Linked DNA regions of Homo sapiens: region 2 is linked to region 1. The links come from fine-mapping of genetic effects on gene expression. A gene starts in region 1. The other region holds a variant in brackets. All regions are shown on one strand. Distances are from middle to middle. Region 1 holds the start of ALOX5 (arachidonate 5-lipoxygenase). Region 2 overlaps ALOX5 (arachidonate 5-lipoxygenase).

The links. PIP is the estimated chance that this variant, and not a neighbour inherited with it, causes the effect.
Region 2: its variant is fine-mapped to the expression of ALOX5 in whole blood (TOPMed, PIP above 0.99).

The regions. Positions count from the first base shown.
Region 1 is chr10:45,361,733-45,377,600 of GRCh38, reverse strand. It overlaps ALOX5 (arachidonate 5-lipoxygenase), which reads right to left and starts at 3,385. Exons shown (of 14, transcript NM_000698.5): 1 at 3,172-3,385. The coding sequence starts at 3,321. RefSeq lists enhancers at 2,398-3,006, 3,007-3,617.
Region 2 is chr10:45,416,703-45,424,702 of GRCh38, reverse strand. It overlaps ALOX5 (arachidonate 5-lipoxygenase), which reads right to left. Exons shown (of 14, transcript NM_000698.5): 5 at 556-662. Among named protein-coding and RNA genes, the nearest start is that of ALOX5, 46 kb to the right of the region's middle. RefSeq lists enhancers at 3,849-4,350, 4,379-5,070, 5,071-5,764. The variant G/A (reference allele first, on the strand shown) is at 4,210.

The DNA of each region.
Region 1 (15,868 bases):
GGAAGAGCTGAGGAAAACAAGGGACGGAGAGAGGGATTGGGGTAGTGGATAGGGAGACCAAGGGGCAGAGAAGGGGGAAAATGTGGGACAGAGAGCCGGAGATTGAGGGAGCAGAGAAGGGGCCTCTGAGAGGTGGCTGGAAGACAGAGTGTAGAGGAAAATTCAGAGCAAAAAAGAAGGGAGAGTTGTAGGGTAGAGAGCAGAAACGGGGGGCATTTAGGGAACTGGGAGCAGGGGAAGGAAGAGGAGGCAGAAGAGGGGGCAGAATGTAGGGAAAAGATGGCTCAGAGGGGGAGACTGGGAGATGAGAGACGGATTGAGGGTCATACCAAAGAAATATTTATGCTCCACTAATATATTCCCATTCACAAGAAGGAGGTATTCTAGAATTAATTTTTCATGAATGTAAGAATACTCACTGACTTAAGAAGCATGAATCATTATAACACTTTTCTACACTTGTTGAACATATTCAAGTATCATATATTAAACACCACGCTATTGCCCTTAGCTTTCTTAAAAGTACCAGCACAGAATGAAATGGGCCAACTAAGATTTCTCAGAAATCTTCAGATCTGTTACAGTTATCGTATCCGATCTGAATTACTTTAAATTTACAGAGTTAAAGAAATAAATCAACTTGTTAAATTTGCCTAGACTTGGGTTAGCCTCTGGAAACAGGGCCATTCTGTGTAGGATCCCGGCTTTCTCCAGCAGACAGTGAGGAGCCAAGGAAGACACAACCGTTTATAGGATAATCCCACCTGCGAAGGACTTGATTCCCAGTCCTGACTGAATCACTATGCGGAACTCTGATGAGAATAACAAGGGACCTGTGACTCACTTTATCAAGGAAAAAATCAGTCCTGTCCATTATTTGACTGAACTATGCCCTGGAGGAGGGGGGTGTTGACCTGCCAATAACTTGGAAATGATTAAATTGTGTGGAAATACCTTTATTGTTATTGTTATCGTTACTACTGTTAACAATACAGATTTTAACACTTTTCCCTGTAAAATGGGATAACCTTGTCTTCTCAGCAAGTACTTCCTCTAGGGTTTCTCTTTTACCTTTACCCAAAAAGGATGATTGTCTTTACAGATACCAAGCTGGGAGAATGAGGAAGTAGTTCTGGGCTGGGCAAGAGAAAGTGTTGAGTAACTTTGCATCAACAGGAACTTTCTCAAAAGCTGATTTTTTCAAGGAAACTTTCAGCCTTAGCTGGTTCCCCACCCTGCGGTAGCCCCCACCCCCAACCACCCCCCGCCCCACCCCTGACTTATAGCCCTCTCAACCCAATGGAAATGTGACATGCAAATCTCTCCTGAAATTTGCCCCTGGGATTCCGGCTGAGGTGTTTAATTATAATGTCATTTGAATGACTTCTCAGGGTAGGGGAAGACAGACCGAGAGAGGGAGATAGTGGACAAAACAGTGCCTTCACTCTTTGTCCGAAGAGCCCGCTATGGCCACGTTATCATGTCCCCTGCAGGAGGAAAGCACACACGGGGTGCCCGTGCTGTGCAGTGTGAGCACACCAATGGCCTGTGCTTCTAGAACCTTATGATGTGTGGAGGAGAATGGGGAGGAGGAAGCACTTACAAAGGGGAAGTAGCCTGTACCCTGTCCTTCTCCCCCAGGTGTGGGGAATCCATGAAATAATGGAAGTAAATGAAGGTGCGTCAGAAATGGCAGAGGGTGCCATCACCCTAAATGGACGACACATTAACTCCAGGGCACCGCAGTCCTCAGGGTCAGTTCCCCGACTGGGGCAACTAAGCAACTGAAGGTTGCTCTTGTACTCAACACCTAACTCTTCTTGAAGGGAGCTCAAGCCAGGATGCTAGTGAACTTGGCTGAGGGCCATGTCGTGCTACAGCGAGGGTATGGGCTCCTGGATAGGAATCGAGCCCATGGAGAGCTTGGAATCCAGAAAAAGAGTAGTTTTTACTTACTTTAGGCTCTGCACACCTAAAACACAAATTTTATCCAAGAGTAATCAGTTGAAACATGAACTTGCCGGTTGTATTTGTCCATTATGAGCAATTTCACAAGGTTTGATCAAATAATAAACTAAATGGTGAGAAGGCAGCTTGGTAAAGTCTAAATCTTTTTGGTCCAGTTAGGAGCTGGGGTGGGGTGGAAGGGAACTGATATTCCCTGCGCACCTGCAGTATGTCTGGGACTATTACCAGTCATTTACGGAGCGCTTCCTCTGTGCCAGGTACTGGATTAGGCACTTCATTAAAGGCTCAGTGAGAACTGCGACCTGCCCATGCTCATGGAAAAGAGTCGTGGGGCTGGAATTCAGGTCCAGATCAGCATTAGGAACTAGCTTCCAAATGCTGAGGGCTCCCTCGCGTCCTCACACCTAGCGTGGAAGTGTTCCCTGGTGTACATTCTGCTGGGAGGGAGTGCAGCCCCTCCATTTAGGAAAAGCCTCTCCTGGCCTGGGTTCTGTTCCTTCCCTTTAATTTCCTCTGGGGACTGTCCTGAGAATGTAAGCTGCCCAGGTGCCGTCTGAGCCACCAGATGGGCCTGGGCTCACCCATGACTCATGGACCAGACTGAAGCCAACCCTCCATTTTCAGCTGGGGAAACTGAGGCCCAGACAGACGGTAGAGTGAGCTGGTGGTCATGTCTGGACAGAACTCAGGCCTCTGGACCCGCTGACGTGCACCCTTCCCCACGGCTCACAGCTGGCTGCTCCGAGGTGCCCTCAGAGTTCTGTGAGCATGACTCATCTGCCTCTCCCTCCCTGTGCGACCTGCAGAAGGAGCCTAAGGAAGAGGTGGCACAAGAAACGCGGCCCAGTGAAGGGGGCTCCGGAGCCTCGGAGCCCAGATCTTGAAGTGGAGGGGAAACCTTGGGCCTTCTCCTCCCAGGGAAGACGCCTTGCAGGCGGCACGCGGGAAGTCTCCGTTTCCGACAGGGGTCGCGGCCGCCGCGAGGGGTCCTGGACGCTTGCCCACCAGGGTACCCACCGGCCACTGGGAGCCCAGGGCACGCCCCACCGCAGTTCTGCCCTCCCTGACAGGGTCCTGGACACCCCCAGTCCTGTCCGGGCCGCCCCGACGGGCCCTCGGCGCCCCCGCCCAGGCCTCTGCCGTCCAAACCGGGTCCCGGACGCACCTCAGCCCGCGCTCCACCCGTGCCCCGCCCGCGCTCACCGCGCCACGCTCGAAGTCGTTGTAGAAGGGCTTGTCCAGCAGGTGCTTCTCGCTGCAGCCCGCCGAGCCCACGAGGCTGAGGTAGATGTAGTCGTCAGTGCCGGCGAACCACTGGCTGCCAGTGGCCACGGTGACCGTGTAGGAGGGCATGGCGCGGGCCGCGGGAGCAGCGAGCGCCGGGAGCCTCGGCGCGGCGGTCCAGGTGTCCGCATCTAGCGCCGCAGCCTCCTCCCACCACTGGTCCCTGGCCCCGGTCCCGGCCCCGCCCCGGTCTGGCTCCAGGCTCCCGGCTGCCCCCGCCCCCGCCCCCGCCCCCGCCCCCGCCCCCGCAGTACTTCTCTCCCACTCTTCACGCGGCGCCGACTGGGCGGGACCTCGCCTCGGGCGGGGCAGGGGCCTCGCTCCTGGGTCTCTCCTCAGCGAGGTGTCTGTTCCTGCAGCCAGGGGACTGGGGCAACCTCGGCTGCCACCCCTCATCCATTCGTTCACTCGTTCTCTCCTGAATTGCTTCCACCCTTTGCCCTGCCTGCCTGCCTCGGCTTCGCCCAAGGCCAGGCTCCTGTAGGCCCTGGGGTGGAGCTGCGGGGACTCCCTACAAATCTAGGCACAGCCTCTGCTCTCCCCAAGTTCTCAGTGCCACTTGCGGTACTTGGAGCAGGGGTGCTCCGGGAGTCTGCAGAGGAAGAGCGACCCATGAGAGAATCAGAAGGGCTTCCTGGAGGAGGCCACCCCAGCGCTGATACTGAGGATGGATTCTGGAGCACAGAGGCTCCTTCAGCGCGGGCTTCTTCACTGGCTGGACCTGCGGCTCCTGGCGGGGGCAGGCGGGCGCCGAGACCGCGCCCAGGCCCAGAGATGGCCAGTGGTCGCGGGAGGCAGGCGGGACGGCACATCTGGACATGCGGGGCTGTCTAGGGGAGGCCAGGGGTCACGGGTCGGCTCTCTGAATCGCGGCGGGCAAATGCCTGGAAGGGTGTGGAGAAGGTTTCGCGCGCTCCTGGGCGGCTTCCCGCGGCTGGGGCCTGACCCCCAGGTTCCCGCCCACTCCTGGCGCCCGCCTCTCCCAGCCCCGCCGGCAGCGCAGGGTCTGACGGGCACACAGTCGCGTGTATTGATCTCGGCTAAGTTTAAACACTAGCTCACCGTGCGTGGGGCGGCGGGGATGTGAAGTCCCCAAAGGCGGCTGCCTACATTCTCACCAACGCTTCATGTCTGTGAAGCAGCAGAGTCCCTGTAGCATCTCCTCATACTGTCTTGGGTTTGTGCACCTGGCAAATGGCTTTGAACATCTTTTCACATGCTTGTTGGATATCTGTATATTTTTGGAGAGATGTATATTCAGATGCTTGACTCTTTGGAAAACTGGGCTATTTATCTTTTTTATCATTGAATTGCATTATTTATATATCCTGGATAGAAGTCTCTAATCGGATACATGACTTACAGACATTTTTATTGCTTCTGCGGGTTGTGTTTTCACTTTCTTGATGATGTTTGAAGCACAAAAGTATTTAACTTTAAGTCCAATTTCTTTTGTCGCTTGTGATTTTGGGGTCCTATCTGAGAAACCACTGCCTACAATAACATCTTAAAGATTTACTCCTAGGTTTTCCTCTAGGATTATTATAGTTTTAGCTTTTCATTTACATCCGTGACCCATTTTGAGTTAGTTTTTATGCATGGAGCGATAGAAGAATTCAAATTCATTGTGTTGCATGTGCATGTCCGGTTGTCCATGCATCATTTGTTGAATTCATTATTCTTTTCCCATTGCGTTGTCTTGACACCTTATTAAAAAGTAATTCATTATAAACATAACGGTTTATTTCTGGACATTGATTCTAGTCCACTGATCTGTAATGTACATGCTATACAGTGCCACACTGCTTGATTACCGCAGTGCTATAGTAAGTTTTGAAATTGGAAAATGTTAATCCACCAACGCTGTTCTTTATTTTTCAATATTGTTTTGGTTATTCTGGATCCTTTGAGATTCCATATAAATTATAGAATCAGCTTGTCAATTTCAGCCAAAAAGCAAGCTAGGATTTTGATAGGGGTTGAGTTGAAGCTGTAGATCAATTTGGGGAATATTGTCACTTTAACAATATTAAGTCTTCTGATCCATAGAATATGTTTCAGCTTATTTAAATCTTTTCTTTTCTTTTCGACTCTTTGGAGTCTCCCTCTGTTGCCCAGGCTAAAGTGCAGTGGTACAATCTCGGCACACTGCAACCTCTGCTTCCCAGGTTCAAGTGATCCATTTACTTAAATCTTTTCTGATTTATTTCAAAATATTTTGTAGTTTTCAGTGCACTTTTTATTTCTAAATAATTTATGTTTGATACTATTGTAAATGGAATTTTAATTCATTTTGAGATTGTTAATTGCTAGTATATAGAAAAACACTTGATTTTTGTACATTCATTTTATATTCTGCAAACTTGCTGAACTTGTTTATTAGTTCTAATGGTTTGTGTGTGTGTACATGTGCACATTTTCTATATGCAAGATCATGTCATGAGCGAGTAGAGATAGTTTTACTTCTTCTTTTATTTGGAAGCCTTTTATTTCTTTTTCAGGGATAATTGCCCTAGCCAGAACCTCAGTACAAGGTCAAATGGAAGTGGCAAAAGCAGGCATCTTTGTCTTGTTCCTGGTTCAAGAGGTGAACACCCAGCCTTTCTGTATTAAGTTTGATGCTAGCTGGGGGTTTCCACAGATGCCATTTATCAGGTTGAGGGAGTTCCCTTTTATTTCTTTTGTTTTAAAGTGTTTTTATCATGAAATTTTCTGTATCAGTCGAGATACGAAATTTTTTCCTGTATGCTATATTAATATTATGATTATTTTCGTTTTAAAATATTTGATTGACAAATCAAAGTTTCTATTTCAAGGGGTAAAATGTGATGATTTGATATATGTATATATTGAATGCTGATTGTCACAGTCAAATTAACATATCTATCACCACCTATAGTTACCATTTGTGTGTGTGTATGTTGGGGGGGTGCTGGGGATGCTTAAAATCTGCTCTTATCCAATTTCAAGTAATAACGCAGTTATAAACTATAGTCACCATGCTGTACATTTGATCCCCAGAACTTATTCATCTTTTTTTTTTTTTTTTTTTTGAGACAGGGTTTCGCTCTGTCACCCAGGCTGCAATGCAGTGGCACTATCTTGGCTGACTGCAGCCTTGACTTTCCAATTTCAAATGATCCTCCCCCCTCAGCCTCCTGACTAGCTGGGACTACAGGTGTATGCCACCACTCCCAGCTGATTCTTTTATTTTTATTTTTTGTAGAGATGAGGTCTCACTTTCTTGCCTAGGCTGGTCTCAAGCAATCCCTCTGCCTCAGCCTTCCAAAGTATTGGGATTACCAACATGAGCCATCGCACCTGGCCTTCATCTCATAACTGAAAGTTTATACTCTTTGCCCAATATTTTGCTTCTTCCCCACATCCCCTAGCTCCTGATAAATACTGTTCTACTTATTCGTCTTCAAGTTTGAAATTTTTAGATTCGCATATAAATGAGATCATACAATATTTGTATTTCTGTGTCTGGCTTATTTCACTTAACATAATGTCCTCTGGGTTCATTCATATCGTCACAAATGGCAGGGTTTCCTTCTTTGTTATGGCTGAAAAATAGTCCATTGTGTATGTATACATGCACACCCCTCCCCCCATTTTCTTTATCCGTTGATGGACATTTAGATTTTTTCCTTATCTTGGCTACTGTGAGTAAAGCTGCAATAAACAAGGAAGTACAGATATCTCTTTGACATAGTGATTTGATTCCTTTGGATGTACACTCATAAGTGGAATTGCTAGATTGTATGGTAGTTCTATTTTTATTTTTTGAGGAACCTCCATTCTATTTTCCATAAAGGCTGTTGCAATTTACATTTCTACCAACAGTGTACAAGGGTTCTTTTTTCTCCATGCCCTTGCCAATATTCATTGTCTCTTGTGTTTTTCATAATAGCTTTCCTAACAGGTGTGGAGTGATATCTCATTGTGGTTTTGATTTGCATTTCCCTGATGATTAGTGATGTTGAACGCTTTTTCCTGCACTCGTTGGCCATCTGTGTGTCTTCTTTGAAAAAATGTCTATTCAGGTCCTTTGCCCATTATAAAACAGGTTATTATTTTTTTGGTATTGAGATATGTGAGTTCCTTATATATTTTCTATATTTTGATATTAACTTCTCATCAGGTATATGGTTTGCAAATATTTCCCTCCATTCTGTAGGTTGCCTTTTCATGTTGTTGACTTTCTTTTGCCATGCAGAAGCTTTTTAGTTTGATGTAGTCCTACTTGTTTATTTTTTCAAAAGTCTGTGCTTTTGGTGTAATATCCCAAAAAATTATTGCCAAGGCCAACGTCAAGGAGCTTTTCCCCTATGTTTCTCTCTAGGAGTTTTTGGTTTCAGATCTTACATTTAAGTCTTTAATTCATTTCAAGTTAATTTTTGTATATTAACTTGGGTCCAGTTTTGTATATTAAAAGGGTCTAATTTTATTCTTTTGTATGTGGATATGCAGTTTTCCCAACACCACTTATTGAAGAGATGAGATTATATTAATTTTATTTATAGCTATTGCAAATGGGAAATGGGATTACTTCCTTGATTTCATTTTCAGATTGTTTGCTATTGACATATAGAAATGCTACTGATTTTTGTATGTTAATTTTGTATCCTGAAACTTTACTGAATTTATCAGTTCTAATCATTTTTTTATGGAGTCTAGGTTTTTCCAAACAGAAGATCATACCATCTGCGAACAAAGGTAATTTGACTTCTCTCTTCCCAGTTTGGATGCCCCTTATTTCTGTCTCTAGTCTGTTCTAGCTAGGACTTTCAGTACTATGTTCCACTAACACTGGTGAAAATGAGCATCCTTGTCTTGTTCCAGATCTTAGAGGAATGACTTTCAGTTTCTCCCCATTTAGTATGATTCTAGCTGTGAGTCTGTCATATATGTCTGTTTATTGTGTTGAGGTATGTTCCTTCTGTCTCCAGTGTTTTTGAGGGTTTTTGTCATGAAGAGATGTTTAATTCTCTCAAATACTTTTTCAGCATCAATTAACATGACCATATGGTTTTTCTTCTTCATTCTGTTGATATGATATGTTACACTGACTGATGTGTATATGTTGAACCATATTTGCATCCCTGGGATAAATCCCATTTGGTCATAATGAATGATTTTTAATGTGATGTTGAATTCAGTTTGCTAGCATTTTTTGAGGATTCATCAATATTCATGTGAGATATTGGCCTATAGTTTTCTTTTTTTGATGTGTCCTTGGTTTTGATATAGGAGCAGTAATGGCCTCATAGAATAAGTTTGGAAATATTCCCTCCTCTTCTACTTTTTGGAATAGTTTGAGTAGGATTGGTATTAGTTCTTTAAATGTTTGATAGAATTCAGCAGTGAAGCCATTGGGTCTCAGGCTTTTCTTTGCTGGGAAAATTTTAATTATGGCTTTGATCTTGTTACTTGTTTTTGGTCTGTTCAGATTTTGAATTTCTTCATGGTTGAATCTTGTTAGGTTGCGTGTGTCTACGAATTTATCTATTTCTTCAATATTTTCCAATGTTTGGCATACAGTTGCTCATAGTAGCCATTAATGATCCTTTGAATTTCCGCAGTATCAGTTATAATGTCTGCTTTTTCATCTCTGATTTTATTTATTTGGGCCTTCTCTTTTTCTTAGTCTGGCTAAACATTTGTCAATTTTGTTTATCTCTTTAAAAAGCCAACCTTTCATTTTTGTTGATCTTTTGTATTGTTTTCTTCATTTCAATTTTATGTGTTTCTTTTTTTTTGGGTTGGGAAGTTTAGAGAATGGATTGATAGAGAAGTTTAATGGTATACTTCGCTGATGCTTAAAAATTGTACAGTCTAACAAGTGATCTCACTCTTTCTAAACTGCATTCTACTATCCTGTGTGAAAAAGGGAAATGGAAACTTCTTCACAGAATTAAAATTTAGATAAGAAAATCTAAACTTAAGGTTGTTATTTTTGCTATTTACTATTGTGATGTGGTATTACCCTGGCACCATGGAATGTGCGGAAGTGAAAGCCATCTGCTCCCCAGCCACTCCTAATGTTGGAAGGGGATTTATTTTAACAATTTGGTGTGTATGCCTGAATACTTTCCATGTGTATCCAGACACATAGTGCACATGCAGAGTTATATTAGGTATACCCATCTACAATTTGCTAGTAACATTTTCTTTTTTTCATTTTTATTATACTTCAAGTTCTAGGGTACCTGTGCACAAAGTGCAGGTTTCTTACATAGGTATAGATGTGCCCTGTTGGTTTGCTGCATCCATCAACTCATCATTTACATTAGGTATTTCTCCTAATGCTATCTCTCCCCCAGTCCACCACCCCCCAACAGGCCCTGGTGTGTGATGTTCCCTGCCCTGTGTCCAAGTGTTCTCATTGTTCAGTTCCCATCTATGAGTGAGAACATGCGGTGTTTGGTTTTCTGTCCTTGTCATAGTTTGCTGAGAATGATGGTTTCCAGCTTCATCCATGTCCCTGAAAAGGACATGAACTCATCCTTTTTTATGGCTGCATAGTATTCCATGGTGTATATGTGCCACATTTTCTTAATCCAGTCTATCATTGATGGACATCTGGGTTTGTTAGAAGTCTTTGCTATTGTGAATAGTGCCACAATAAACATTCGTGTGCATGTGTCTTTATAGTTGCACCATTTGTAATCTTTTCGGTATATACCCAGTAATGGGATTGCTGGGTCAAATGGTATTTCTAGTTCTAGATCCTTGAGGAATTGCCACACTGTCTTCAACAATGATTGAACTAATTTACACCCCCACCAACAGTGTAAAAGCATTCCTATTTCTCCATGTCCTCTCCAGCATCTGTTGTTTCCTGACTTTAATGATCGTCATTCTAACTGGTGTGAGATGGTATCTCATTGTGGTTTTGATTTGCATTTCTCTGATGGCCAGTGATGATGAGCATTTTTTCATGTGTCTGTTGGCTGCATAAATGTCTTCTTTTGAGAAGTGTCTTTTCATGTATTTTGCCCACTTTTTGATGGGGTTGTTTTTTTCTTGAACATTTGTTTAAGTTCTTTGTAGATTCTGAATATTAGCCCTTTGTCAGATGAGTAGATTGCAAAAATTTTCTCCCATTCTGTAGGTTGCCTATTCACTCTGATGGTAGTTTCTTTTGCTGTGCAGAAGCTCTTTAGTTTAATTAGATCCCATTTGTCAATTTTGGCTTTTGTTGCCATTGCTTTTGGTGTTTTAGACATGAAGTCCTTGCCCATGCCTATGTCCTGAATGGTAATGCCTAGGTTTTCTTCTAGGGTTTTTATGGTTTTAGGTCTGACATTTAAGTCTTTAATCCATCTTGAATTAATTTTTGTATAAGGTGTAAGGAAGGGATCCAGTTTCATCTTTCTACATATGGCTAGCCAGTTTTCCCAGCACCATTTATTAAATAGGGAATCCTTTCCCCATTTCTTGTTTTTCTCAGGTTTGTCAAAGATCAGACAGTTGTCGATATGCAGCATTATTTCTGAGGGCTCTGTTCTGTTCCATTGATCTATATCTCTGTTTTGGTAACAGTACCAAGCTGTTTTGGTTACTGTAGCCTTGTAGTATAGCTTGAAGTCAGGTAGTGTGATGCCTCCAGCCTTGTTCTTTTGGCTCAGGATTGACTTGGTGATGCGGGCTCTTTTTTGGTTCCATATGAACTTTAAAGTAGTTTTTTCCAATTATGTGAAGAAAGTAATTGGTAGCTTGATGGGGATGGCATTGAATCTGTAAATTACCTTGGGCAGTATGGCCATTTTCACAATATTGATTCTTCCTACCCATGAGCATGGAATGTTCTTCCATTTGTTTGTATCCTCTTTTATTTCGTTGAGCAGTGGTTTGTAGTTCTCCTTGAAGAGGTGCTTCACATCCCTTGTAAGGTGGATTCCTAGGTATTTTATTCTCTTTGAAGCAATTGTGAATGGGAGTTCACTCATGATTTGGCTCTCTGTTTGTCTGTTGTTGGTGTATAAGAATGCTTGTGATTTTTGTACATTGATTTTGTATCCTGAGACTTTGCTGAAGTTGCTTATCAGCTTAAGGAGGTTTTGGGCTGAGACAATGGGGTTTTCTAGATATAAAATCATGTCATCTGCAAACAGGGACAATTTGACTTCCTCTTTTCCTAATTGAATACCCTTTATTTCCTTCTCCTGCCTGATTGCCCTGGACAGATCTTCCAGCACTATGTTGAATAGGAGTGGTGAGAGAGGGCATCCCTGTCTTGTGCCAATTTTCAAAGGGAATGCTTCCAGTTTTTGCCCATTCAGTATGATATTGGCTGTGGGTTTGACATAGATAGCTCTTATTATTTTGAGATACGTCCCAGCAATACCTAATTTATTGAGAGTTTTTAACATGAAGTGTTGTTGAATTTTGTCAAAGGCCTTTTCTGCATCTATTGAGATAATCATGTGGTTTTTGTCTTTGGTTCTGTTTATATGCTGGATTACATTTATTGATTTGCATATGTTGAACAAGCCTTGCATCCTAGGGATGAAGCCTACTTGATCATGGTGGATAAGCTTTTTGATGTGCTGCTGGATTTGGTTTGCCAGTATTTTATTGAGGATTTTGGCATCAATGTTCCTCAAGGATATTGGTCTAAAATCCTCTTTTTTGGTTTTGTCTCTGCCCGGCTTTGGTATCAGGATGATGCTGGCCTCATAAAATGAGTTAGGGAGGATTCCCTCTTTTTCTATTGATTGGAATAGTTTCAGAAGGAATGGTACCAGTTCCTCCTTGTACCTCTGGTAAAATTCGGCTGTGAATCCATCTGGTCCTGGACTCTTTTTGGTTGGTAAGCTATTGATTATTGCCACAATTTCAGCTCCTGTTATTGGTCTATTCAGAGATTCAACTTCTTCCTGGTTTAGTCTTGGGAGAGTGTATGTGTCGAGGAATTTATCCATTTCTTCTAGATTTTCTAGTTTATTTGCATAGAGGTGTTTGTAGTATTCTCTGATGATAGTTTTTATTTCTGTGGGATCGGTGGTGATATCCCCTTTATCATTTTTTATTGCATCTATTTGATTCTTCTCTCTTTTTTTCTTTATTATTCTTGCTAGCGGTCTATCAATTTTGTTGATCCTTTCAAAAAACCAGCTCCTGGATTCATTAATTTTTGAAGGGTTTTTTTTGTCTCTGTTTCCTTCAGTTCTGCTCTGATTTTAGTTATTTCTTGCCTTCTGCTAGCTTTTGAATGTGTTTGCTCTTGCTTTTCTAGTTCTTTTAATTGTGATGTTAGGGTGTCAATTTTGGATCTTTCCTGCTTTCTCTTGTGGGCATTTAGTGCTACAAATTTCCCTCTACACACTGCTTTGAATGCATCCCAGAATTTCTGGTATGTTGTGTCTTTGTTCTCATTGGTTTCAAAGAACATCTTTATTTCTGCCTTCATTTCGTTGTGTACCCAGTAGTCATTCAGGAGCAGGTTGTTCAGTTTCCATGTAGTTGAGCAGTTTTGAGTGAGTTTCTTCATCCTGAGTTGTAGTTTGATTGCACTGTGGTTAGAGAGACAGTTTGTTATAATTTCTGTTCTTTTACATTTGCTGAGGAGAGCTTTACTTCCAAGTATGTGGTCAATTTTGAAATAGGTATGGTGTGGTGCTGAAAAAAATGTATATTCTGTTGATTTGGGGTGGAGAGTTCTGTAGATGTCTATTAGGTCTGCTTGGTGCAGAGCTGAGTTCAATTCCTGGGTATCCTTGTTGACTTTCTGTCTTGTTGATCTGTCTAATGTTGACAGTGGGGTGTTAAAGTTTCCCATTATTAATGTGTGGTAGTCTAAGTCTCTTTGTAGGTCACTCAGGACTTGCTTTATGAATCTGGGTGCTCCTGTATTGGGTGCATATATATTTAGGATTGTTAGCTCTTCTTGTTGAATTGATCCCTTTACCATTAAGTAATGGCCTTCTTTGTCTCTTTTGATCTGTGTTGGTTTAAAGTCTGTTTTATCAGAGACTAGGATTGCAACCCCTGCCTTTTTTTTGTTTTCCATTTGCTTGGTAGGTCTTCCTCCATCCCTTTATTTTGAGCCTATGTGTGTCTCTGCCCGTGAGATGGGTTTCCTGAATACAGCACACTGATGGGTCTTGAATCTTTATGCAATTTGCCAGTCTGTGTCTTTTAATTGCAGCATTTAGTCCATTTACATGTAAAGTTAATATTGTTATGTGTGAATTTGATCCTGTCATTATGATGTTAGCAGGTTGTTTTGCTCGTTAGTTGATGCAGTTTCTTCCTAGCCTCGATGGTCTTTACATTTTGGCATGATTTTGCAGCGGCTGGTACCGGTTGTTCCTTTCCATGTTTAGCACTTCCTTCAGGAGCTCTTTTAGGGCAGGCCTGGTGGTGACAAAATTTCTCAGCATTTGCTTGTCTGTAAAGGATTTTATTTCTCCTTCACTTATGAAGCTTAGTTTGGCTGTATATGAAATTCTGGTTTGAAAATTCTTTTCCTTAAGAATGTTGAATATTGGCCACCACTCTCTTCTGGCTTGTAGAGTTTCTGCCGAGAGATCCGCTGTTAGTCTGATGGGCTTCCCTTTGAGGGTAACCCGACCTTTCTCTCTGGCTGCCCTTAACATTGTTCCCTTCATTTCAACTTTGGTGAATCTGACAATTATGTGTCTTGGTGTTGCTCTTCTCGAGGAGTATCTTTGTGGCGTTCTCTGTATTTCCTGAATCTGAATGTTGGCCTGCCTTGCTAGATTGGGGAAGTTCTCCTGGATAATATCCTGCAGAGTGTTTTCCAACTTGGTTCCATTCTCCCCGTCACTTTCAGGTACGCCAATCAGATGTAGATTTGGTCTTTTCACATAGTCCCATATTTCTTGGAGGCTTTGTTCATTTCTTTTTATTCTTTTTTCTCTAAACTTTCCTTCTCACTTCATTTCATTCATTTCATCTTCCATCGCTGATACCCTTTCTTCCAGTTGATCGCATCGGCTCCTGAGTCTTCACGTAGTTCTCGAGCCTTGGTTTTCAGCTCCATCAGCTCCTTTAAGCACTTCTCTGTATTGGTTATTCTAGTTATACATTCTTCTAAATTTTTTGAACGTTTTCAACTTCTTTGCCTTTGGTTTGAATGTCCTCCCGTAGTTCGGAGTAATTTGATCATCTGAAGCCTTCTTCTCTCAGCTCGTCAAAGTCATTCTCCGTCCAGCTTTGTTCCATTCCTGGTGAGGAACTGCATTCCTTTGGAGGAGGAGAGGCGCTTTGCCTTTTAGAGTTTCTAGTTTTTCTGCTCTGTTTTTTCCCCATCTTTGTGGTTTTATCTACTTTTGGTCTTTGATGATGGTGATGTACAGATGGGTTTTTGGTGTGGATGTCCTTCTGTTTGTTAGTTTTCCTTCTAACAGACAGGACCCTCAGCTGCAGGTCTGTTGGAGTACCCGGCTGTGTGAGGTGTCAGTCTGCCTCTGCTCGGGGATGCCTCCCAGTTAGGCTGCTCGGGGGTCAGGGGTCAGGGACCCACTTGAGGAGGCAGTCTGCCCGTTCTCAGATCTCCAGCTGCGTGCTGGGAGAACCACTGCTCTCTTCAAAGCTGTCAGACAGGGACATTTAAGTCTGCAGTGGTTACTGCTGTCTTTTTGTTTGCCTGTGCCCTGCCCCCAGAGGTGGAGCCTACAGAGGCAGGCAGGCCTCCTTGAGCTGTGGTGGGATCCACCCAGTTTGAGGTTCCCAGCTGCTTTGTTTACCTAAGCAAGCCTGGGCAATGGCAGGCGCCCCTCCCCCAGCCTCGCCGCTGCCTTGCAGTTTGATCTCAGACTGCTGTGCTAGCAATCAGCAAGACTCCGTGGGCATAGGACCCTCCAAGCCAGGTGCGGGATATACTCTCCAGGTGCGCCGTTTTTTAAGCCCGTTGGAAAAGTGCAGTATTCAGGTGGGAGTGACCCGAATTTCCAGGTGCCATCTGTCACCCCTTTCTTTGACTAGGAAAGGGAACTCTCTGACCCCTTGCACATCCCGAGTGAGGCAACGCCTCACCCTGCATTGGCTCGCACACAGTGCGCGCACCCACTGACCTGTGCCCACTGTCTGGCACTCCCTAGTGAGATGAACCCGGTACCTCAGATGGAAATGCAGAAATCACCCGTCTTCTGTGTCACTCACGCTGGGAGCTGTAGACTGGAGCTGTTCCTATTTGGCCATCTTGGCTCCTCCCCCTTCTTCTAGATTTTCTAGTTTATTTATGTAGAGGTGTTTATAGTATTCTCTGATGGTAGTTTGTATTTCTATGGGATCAGTGGTGATATCCCCTTTATCTTTTTTTATTGAGTCTAATTTGATTCTTCTCTCTTTTCTTTATTATTCTTGCTAGCGGTCTATTAATTTTGTTGATCTTTTTAAAAACCAGCTCCTGGATTCATTGATTTTTTTGAAGTGCTTTTTGTGTCTCTATCTCCTTCAGTTCTGTTCTGATCTTAGTTATTTCTTGCCTTCTGCTAGCTTTTGAATGTGTTTGCTCTTGCTTCTCTAGTTCTTTTAATTGCGATGTTAGGTTGTTGATTTTAGTTCTTTCCTGCTTTCTCTTGTGGGCATTTAGTGCTATAATTTTCCCTGTACACACTGCTTTAAATGTGTCCCGGAGAAT
Region 2 (8,000 bases), 51 kb before region 1:
TCCAGGATGGAAGAAGGAGGGCGTGGAGGAGAGTCCCTGGGGGCAGTTTGCCAAGTTTGGTTCCCCATGTCCTGATTTCAGCACCTCTTCTTGTCCAGCCATTCCTGCCTTCCTAACGTCCTTCCCATGCCATGACTGGCCACTATGAAGCTAGTGCTCTCATCAAACACATCCTAGTCCAAAGGAACCCAAAGTTGCTTTTGTGTAAATACCTAAAACACAAGCCAAGTTCTGCCTTTGCTCTGTTCAGAAGCACAAATGATTGATTTGTGCCAAGAAAAAGTTCTGATACTTTTGAGACTTTTGATAGTGAAATGAGGTTGAGGGTGCTCGAGCTTGAATATCTGAGGAGGAGAAACCTCTGGGCACAAGGGTGACCACAGTGATGGTAAAAGGTGTGGAGTGTAGGGGGTGCTGTCCAGGGTGGCATGGTGGCAGCGAGGCCCCCATGCTGCAGCAGGCAGGAAGGCCCTTGTCAATTTCCCGGCAAGTATCAGACAGGAGAGCAGCATCCCCTGTCCCCAGCACCACTTGGGCCCCCAGAGGCACACTCACCAGAAATAGTGTTGCTGATCTTGACAAAGATTTTCTCAAAGTCGGCGAAGTCATTCCAAGAAGACTGGAACATGTGCATGAAGCGGTTGATGAACAGGTTCTCCATCCTGCAGACCAGGAGAGAGGTCACCTTGCGCACACTAGCCATGCCTCCCTCTGCAGAGCCCCTTCACACCAAGCTCTCAGGGGTCCTCACAACCCCCGCCCCCTCCAGGCAGCTCTGCAGAGGTAGGTGACTGGCTTTTCAGAACCAGGTCAGAAACTGGCATCTATACGGGATGCTGTTCTACTGCACCTCACCTGTCGAAGAGACAGGCCAGTACCCTCCAGAATAGCCTGCAGTGCCTTGAATTCCATTCACACATGTGTTCATTCATTCACTCATCGGGCACTTGCAGTCCCCCACTCGGTGGGCCAGTCCCTGAGAAAGCTTCTACGAACAGAGATCCAGCTGCTCTACCGTGTTGCCTGGCTTTTGGGGCGATGAACAGTTCAATTGACTTGAAAACTCATGTATTTTCTGCTAAATGGCTCCGTGTTTGGTGCTGAGGAGAAGTTTCCAAATGCTCACTGCACAGGACAAGAAAATAGAAACCCAAGGCCAGAGCTTGCTAAATTCAGAATGCAGGCTGCAGGTACTAAGGAGTGAGATGTGAGTGTATGAGCAATCCCCAGGGCTTCCTGGAGGAGGCAGGGTGTGGGATGGGTCCAGGAAAGGTGGAAAAGAGGGGAGAGACTTCCCAGGCTTCCTCCATAACCCTGCAGAGTGCAGGACAGGAGCGTGGGAGTGCTGCCCAGTGTTCACCATGACACACTGTGCCTCAGTTTCTCTCTCTGGCACACAAAAGACTGAGATTAACAAGATAGCCTGTTGCCTCTCCACCGTCAGTGCTCAATCACTGCCCACTCTTCAGCCTTGACTCTGGTTGCCCCTCAGAGCTCAGGCCTTTGCCTTGGGCCTTTGCACATCTGTTTCCTTCAGGCTGGAATGCTCTGTGCCCCTTTCTTTTCTGCTGTGGACTAAATTGTGCTCCCCAAATTCATGTGTTGAAGCCCTGACCCCCAGTGTGATGGCATTAGGAGATGGGGCCTTTGGGAGGTGATTAGGGTTAGACGAGGTCACGAGGGTGGGGTACCCGTGATGGGATTAGCATCCTCGTAAGAAGAGGAAGGCACCGAGGGCTTATTCATGCCCTGTCCCCCTCTCTCTGCCACGTGACCATGCTGTGGGAACACAGAGACATCTGCAAGCTGGGAAGAGGGCCCTCACCAGCAAGTGGATTGGCTGGCACCCTAATCTTGGACTTCTAGCCTCCGGACCTGTGAGAGACAAATATCTGCCGTTTAAGCCATCTGGTCTGTGGTATTTTGATGTGGCTGTCCCAATAGACTATGCCATTCTCTTACTGCGCACATGGGGTGTATCTGGAGGGCTCACTGGAGTGATGCTGTCTCTGTTCATTTCCTCTGTAGCTCTTACTGCAGCTTAAGTGCAAACTCACGTGTATGAATCTATGCCTGCTGCCCTATGCATGCTGAGGGCACAGTCATGCCTGCACTTTACTCAGCATTGAGCCCAGGCCTTCTAGTGTCCAGAGGGGCTCATGCAGCATCGCCTCATGGACTAAGAGGTGACCTCACCTGGTGCAGGGGACTGTGCCCGGGGCACTCCTCCAGTGGCTCCCCTTCCTGCCCACCCCTGAGGAGGCAGCCCTAGGTGGCCAGGACCCAGTGCTCTGCCTGGACCCACTTCTCAGGTGGAGCATGGCTGGGTCTGAGCTGTAGACACACACCTTGTCATGGGGAAAGCTGGGGAGTCAGGGACCTCCCCACATCCTCCTGATCCAGCAGAATGAGAGGATGGAGGCTGGGGAGAGCCTGGCTGATGGGACACAGGGCTTGGTGACATCCCAGCTCTGTTGTCTCAGGGGAATCACCCTGTGAACATGCATGAAGGCAGCAAACTGGAGCAACCACAGGGGGGAACTCCTAGGATAAGCAAGAGACACTGGGGGTCTCTCCTGCCTGCCCTGCCAGGTCTAGGGGTGCATCCAGGCAGAACAGCAATCCCCTTCCATCCTTTCTTAGCTTAGCAAATGCTTCTCTCCTTTGTCCTGGCTACCCTGGGTCTCCTAGGAGGCCATGATGCTCAGGAGAGGGTCCTGGGGCCACAAGGCTAGAGGCCTTTGTGAGTACTGTCTTTTTCTCCTCATGTGTCAGGATGAACAAGGAGCCTGCAGGTGACCGAGAGGGTGTACTGCTGGAAGTTGCCATGGCACAGCCTGGGCAGTGTGGCTGGCTTTGTGATGGGCTGCATACAGTAGGTGCTCAGTGCTACAGCACCCTGGAGCTGTCGAATAATACCAGCATCATCTTCCAGTCCTTCTGGTACCTTCTTCACTTGGATCCAGCCCCTTGTGGGGAAGGAGGGGCTTTTACACAGGTGCTTGCTTCCAGGGAGGCTGCTGTGGTCTCACCATGGCTACGACCAGCAGCCAGGCACTGGAATACCCAGAGAAGCTTCTTTCAGCCTTGCTGCCTCCTTCCTCCCCCAGCACCCCTCGTCAGCTGAGTGTTCTGGGCTAGGAATGCTTGTCAAGCTGGAGGGGTAAACCTCACTGTAGCATCTGGTGTCAGTCTGGGTGGGGAAAAGAACTTATTTCTGGGAGATGAGAGGCCTACGCAGGCCCCGAGAGCCCTGTAGGGCCTGAAGATGGCCCAGTGCCAGAGGGTGCCCCAGAAAGAGGTCCTGTGCTGGGGCACCTGAGGTCCCGGGTGGTCCCTTGCCCCTGTTCTTTGGAGGAACCAGGAGTGAGTCACCAATTACCCAGCTGGGTCTGTTTGACCTCAAAACAGGAGGTTTACTCTGAAAACAGGGTGGGTCTGGTAGTTCTCAGAAGAAGCCACAGATGTAGGAAGAAGTGGAGTTAGGAGGAACATATTTACATGTCATCTAGAGGCAAAATATTTCTATATCCTTACAGATAACTGGAATATTCAGGGCTTCGAAGACCCGCTTTTGTAAAAAGAAGGACCCTGCAAGCCAGAGAGGGCACCAGGCTTTTTCAAGGCCACACAGGCAGGTAACAGCCACCTTGATCACCTGGCCTAGGGGCAGTGACCTAGCTTTCTCCTGCATCTTCAGCTTTCTCCTGTGCCAAACTGTGGCCCAGGCTGGGCACCAGCTGTTGGCCATGTGCCCGGTGAGCCCCCCACCCCTCGCCCCTACTTCTCCCAGGACGGGCCGCATTTCTGCACTGTCCCGCCTCACTGGGAAGGAAACTCTCTTTCTCAATTTGCTTTAATGAGGCCATTGAGGTTCACCTAACCTCTGTCTCCCTGCTCTTTCCTTCTGCTACCAGCTTTTCCATTTTTTACGCCACAGTTGTGCTGTGCAGGGCAGGAGCAAAGCCTGCTGAGGAGGGCTGGCCCCCTTCCAGGTACAGCAGGTGGCTAGGAGGAACTGCGTGCCAGAATTACTCAGAAGCAGCGGCGAGGAAACCAAGCTGTCGCCAGCCAGAGGTTTAACGGGGAAGGCCTCCTCGGTGACTTCAGCCAAGTTTCAGTTTCCTGCCAGTGGGCACTGAGTTTAACCCACTCTAGGCGGGGAGTGTAGCCATCCAGATTTTAGCAAGGGCCCCAGGGGATTCTGAC[G/A]CAAGCTATACTTTGAGAACCACTGCTGAAGAGTTTGCAATGTTTTCCAAATTAATTTGACTACAGAACAAATCATTTTTTTGAGGGAAACATGACTTCATGCTTTGTATTAACTCTTGGTCTTATTTTATGATGCATTTTTAACAACATGATGCTACCTTAGCAAATAAAATTGAAATTTTCTAGCCTCGTCTGATTTTTAGATGGGATACCACCCTACATTTTCCAAACAAATTTATTTTACAATGGGACACATCCCTGATTTCATAACAAAATTTAATGAAAGTCAATATGTTTTATAGGCATCAGTTAATAGAAGGGGATTATTTTTTAAATTTCCAAGGATTTCAGAGGCTTTCGGGTAGCATTTGGGAAGTTAAAAGTGGGAGAATCCTACTTGTGTCACAGGAAAAGTGGTTCCTATGAGTGCTTTGGTGACTTGGGGCCAAATGGTTTCTGAGTTGGGATGACGATAAGAGGGGATGTGGTCTTCTTCCCATATACAAACCCACGCTTTGCTTTCCAGTGCCAGGCCAGCAGGCCCCCTCCTCTTCCGGCCTCTCTTTCCTCCGCCATCACTTCTCCCGATCCCCAGCCTGGGTCCTCACCCTTCCTCCTGCTGCTACGTCCCTCCCTTCCTCCACAGGCACCCTGCCCGTCCACTGAGCTCAGGGCCCTTCTCTCCTGGCCTGGCCCCTCCGCAGCCTTCCTTGCCTGGGGGATATCGCTCCTTCCCTACACCCCTGGTGCCTTTTGAAACAGGGTCTCACTCTGCCGCCCAGGCGGGAGTTCAGTGGCGCAGATCACTGCAGCTTCCACCTCCCCGGCTCAAGCGATCCTCCCGCTCGGGAATCCCCGAACACTGGGATTACAGGCGTGAGCCTCCGCACCCACTCCCTACCGATCATCCCCCTTCAGGACGCTGCCATCCATGTAGCTGGGTCGTCTGGAGCACGGGGCATGTGGCTGGCCTGCGGGGCTGGGGGAGGGCCGGTGGGAGTGGCTGCCCTCAGAGCCCACCCCCTAGGCCTCTGCCTGCCCCCAGGTTCCCTCTCCCCCGTCCCTTGTCGGGAGTCACTCGTCAGCTTCTCTTCTCAGCCCGGCTGCGCAGCGCTCTCAACCCAACCCCTGGACTCATCTTCGCCCCAGCCTCCTTCGTGCCCAGCGTCCCTTGTAAATGACCCCCCCGGCCGGGTGCCCCGCTTTCTCTCTCGGCCTCTTCCGCGTGGTCTGCTCTCCGCCCGCCTGCGCTCGCCCGGCCTCCCTGCCTCTGCGCCTTCACCTGACCGCAAAGGCGGCCAGGGCAGCCTCCGCGCGGCCTGACAGTCACGGCTCCCAGTTTGTCCCTGGACGTGGGAAACTCGGGCTCATAGCGCCTCTACGTACACTGCGGCACAGACTGGCGTTTCCTACGGCGCCTTCACTGGAAAGCGCCCCTGTGGTCCTGGGGAGAGGGCGGCTCCATCCGCCACCCTTCCCGGAGCTGCCCCCGCCCATTCTCATGGGAGGAAATCGCAGGGCGTGTGAGCCCCCGACCCCTCGCCCCCACCTCTTCCAGGACCGGCCGCATTTCTGCACTGTCCCGCCCCACTGGGAAGGAAACTCTCTTTCTCAATTTCCTTTAATGAGGACATTGTCTTTTCAGCCCTGCCACCCCCTGCAATCGTCTTCCAGGCTGCAAACAGCGAGTGGGGAGGTGAACACATCAGCTTTTCCTCCCTCCACACCACCAGGAAATTTCGCAAACCACTTGGCTCTCGGCGGCCTGGCCTCGCCACACCTGTGCCCACAGTCTCTCTCCGCTGCAGCCCCCTGTGCCATTCTCCAGGCCCCACGTACCTCTGCCTGGGCCCAGTAAGACCTGGTCAGATGGCCCCCGGCTGCAAAGCCTTCCTGGGCCCCATCAGAGAGGACGCCCAGGTGAAGCGAGGGTCCCCTGCCCACCCTGCAAGCGCAGGGGCCCTTCCAAGAGTGCAGCCCTAGGCCGGTGTGTGATGGTGGAGACGCGGTCCCAGAGGGCCTGAACCAAGAATGGAGAAGACAAAGGCTGTCTTTAGGGAGAAACTTCCCTGAGGGGCTGATGTGTGCGATCCCATTTTAATCTCACAACCCTGGGGAGGAGCTGGGGCCGGGTCTCATTGTTCATTTGAGGACACCGAGGCTCAGGGAACTTAGACGACTTTCCTAGGGTCCCCCCAACCCCCACCGGCCCAGGGCCCTCTCCCAGGCACCCCTCATCCCCACACAGGCTCCTCTAAGCTGCTTCCTTGTGGTCCAGCCCCCTTGGCTCAGCTCCTCAAATACAGGGACACCTCTTCTCTCCCCCGCAGAACTCAAGGGTCTCCATCCACTGTGCCAGCACAGAGGCGGTGCTCAGAGTGGGGCTAAGCTTACTGTCCAGCCTGCTGGGCCAGGAGGGGCAGAAGGGCCCCTCTCAGGATTCCTTCGCTCTGCTCCTGCCAATAGGCCATCACTCAAGGGGCTAATGACAGGACGATGTGGAGAAACGTGGGCTGCAGCACTTCTGGGGCCAAGGGCAGGGTGGGCGGCACTGGGGAGTACAGGGGAGGGGACCTCACTGGGGCCAGAGGCTTCTAGAAGCTTCTGCAAGAAGGGGCCCCTCACCCATGTCTTGGCCAAGAAGTGGGGAGGGTGGGTGTGGCAAAGGAAACAGCTAGGTCAGAGACAAGAGATGCTCTGCAAAGCCCTGCTGGCTCCCCACGGTGGAGCATCCTATGCATGTAGGACCTGAGAGATGGCAGGGGCGGGTGCGTCCCTATGGATGTATCTCCATTTCTGGGCAGAGACATCTGGGCTCTCACCTGCAATTGAGCCAACCAAGAAATTATATTTACTTTTTAGAGCGAGCCTCCAACAAATTATACAAGCACTTGAGAATAAGCCCTCCCACTGTCTTGAGAGATGGAGCCCAGGGAGGCAGCTGGAAAGATGCTCCTGCCCTCACTCAGGAGAGATGGTGGAGCTGGGAGAGGAGGAGGCACTCCCTGGGACCCAGCAGATGGACTTGACTCAGCAAATAGATGCAACCATATGTGGGGGGTGGGGAGGCCCAGAAAGGCATTACAGGCCAGTGTTCTTAATCCTGGCTATACACTGGAATCCACCAGTAGCCCTAAAATATAACTGTGCTGGACTTCCCCTGGTTCCACAGTTTGTGCAGAGTGGGCAGCATGGAGTCTGTAACACTAAACACACAGGATTGAGAACCATATGTCTAGGCTGTTGTTAGCCATGATGGGGATACATGAAAAGGAGGTGCACAGTTACCTTCTATACCACAGGATAGGTGCTCATTAAACCCTGTTAAAATGGACTGTGACCCAGCTGGCACTCAGGGGCACTCAGGGGCCAGGTGGGTCACACTTTCATTTTAATAGGATTTAATGAGCACCTATTCTGTGACAGCTGCTAAGATACAGAGGCTCCTGAGATACAGAGATGACAATGACCTTCAGAAACACTGAACAGAGATAAGAAAGGCACAGTCTGGCCTTCACTCCACCATTAATTCCTCCATCCATCCATCCATCCATCTATCCATCCATCTCTCTGTCTATACTTCCATCCATCCACCATCCATTCACCATCCACCCATCAATCCATCCACCCATCTATCCATCCATCCATCTCACTATCTGTCATCCATCCATCCATCCACCATCCATGAATCCATCCATCCGTATATCAATTTCTCATCTATCTCTCCATCCATCCCCCATCCACCTCTTCTTCCATCCTTCCTCCTTCCCTTCATCCATCCATTCATCATC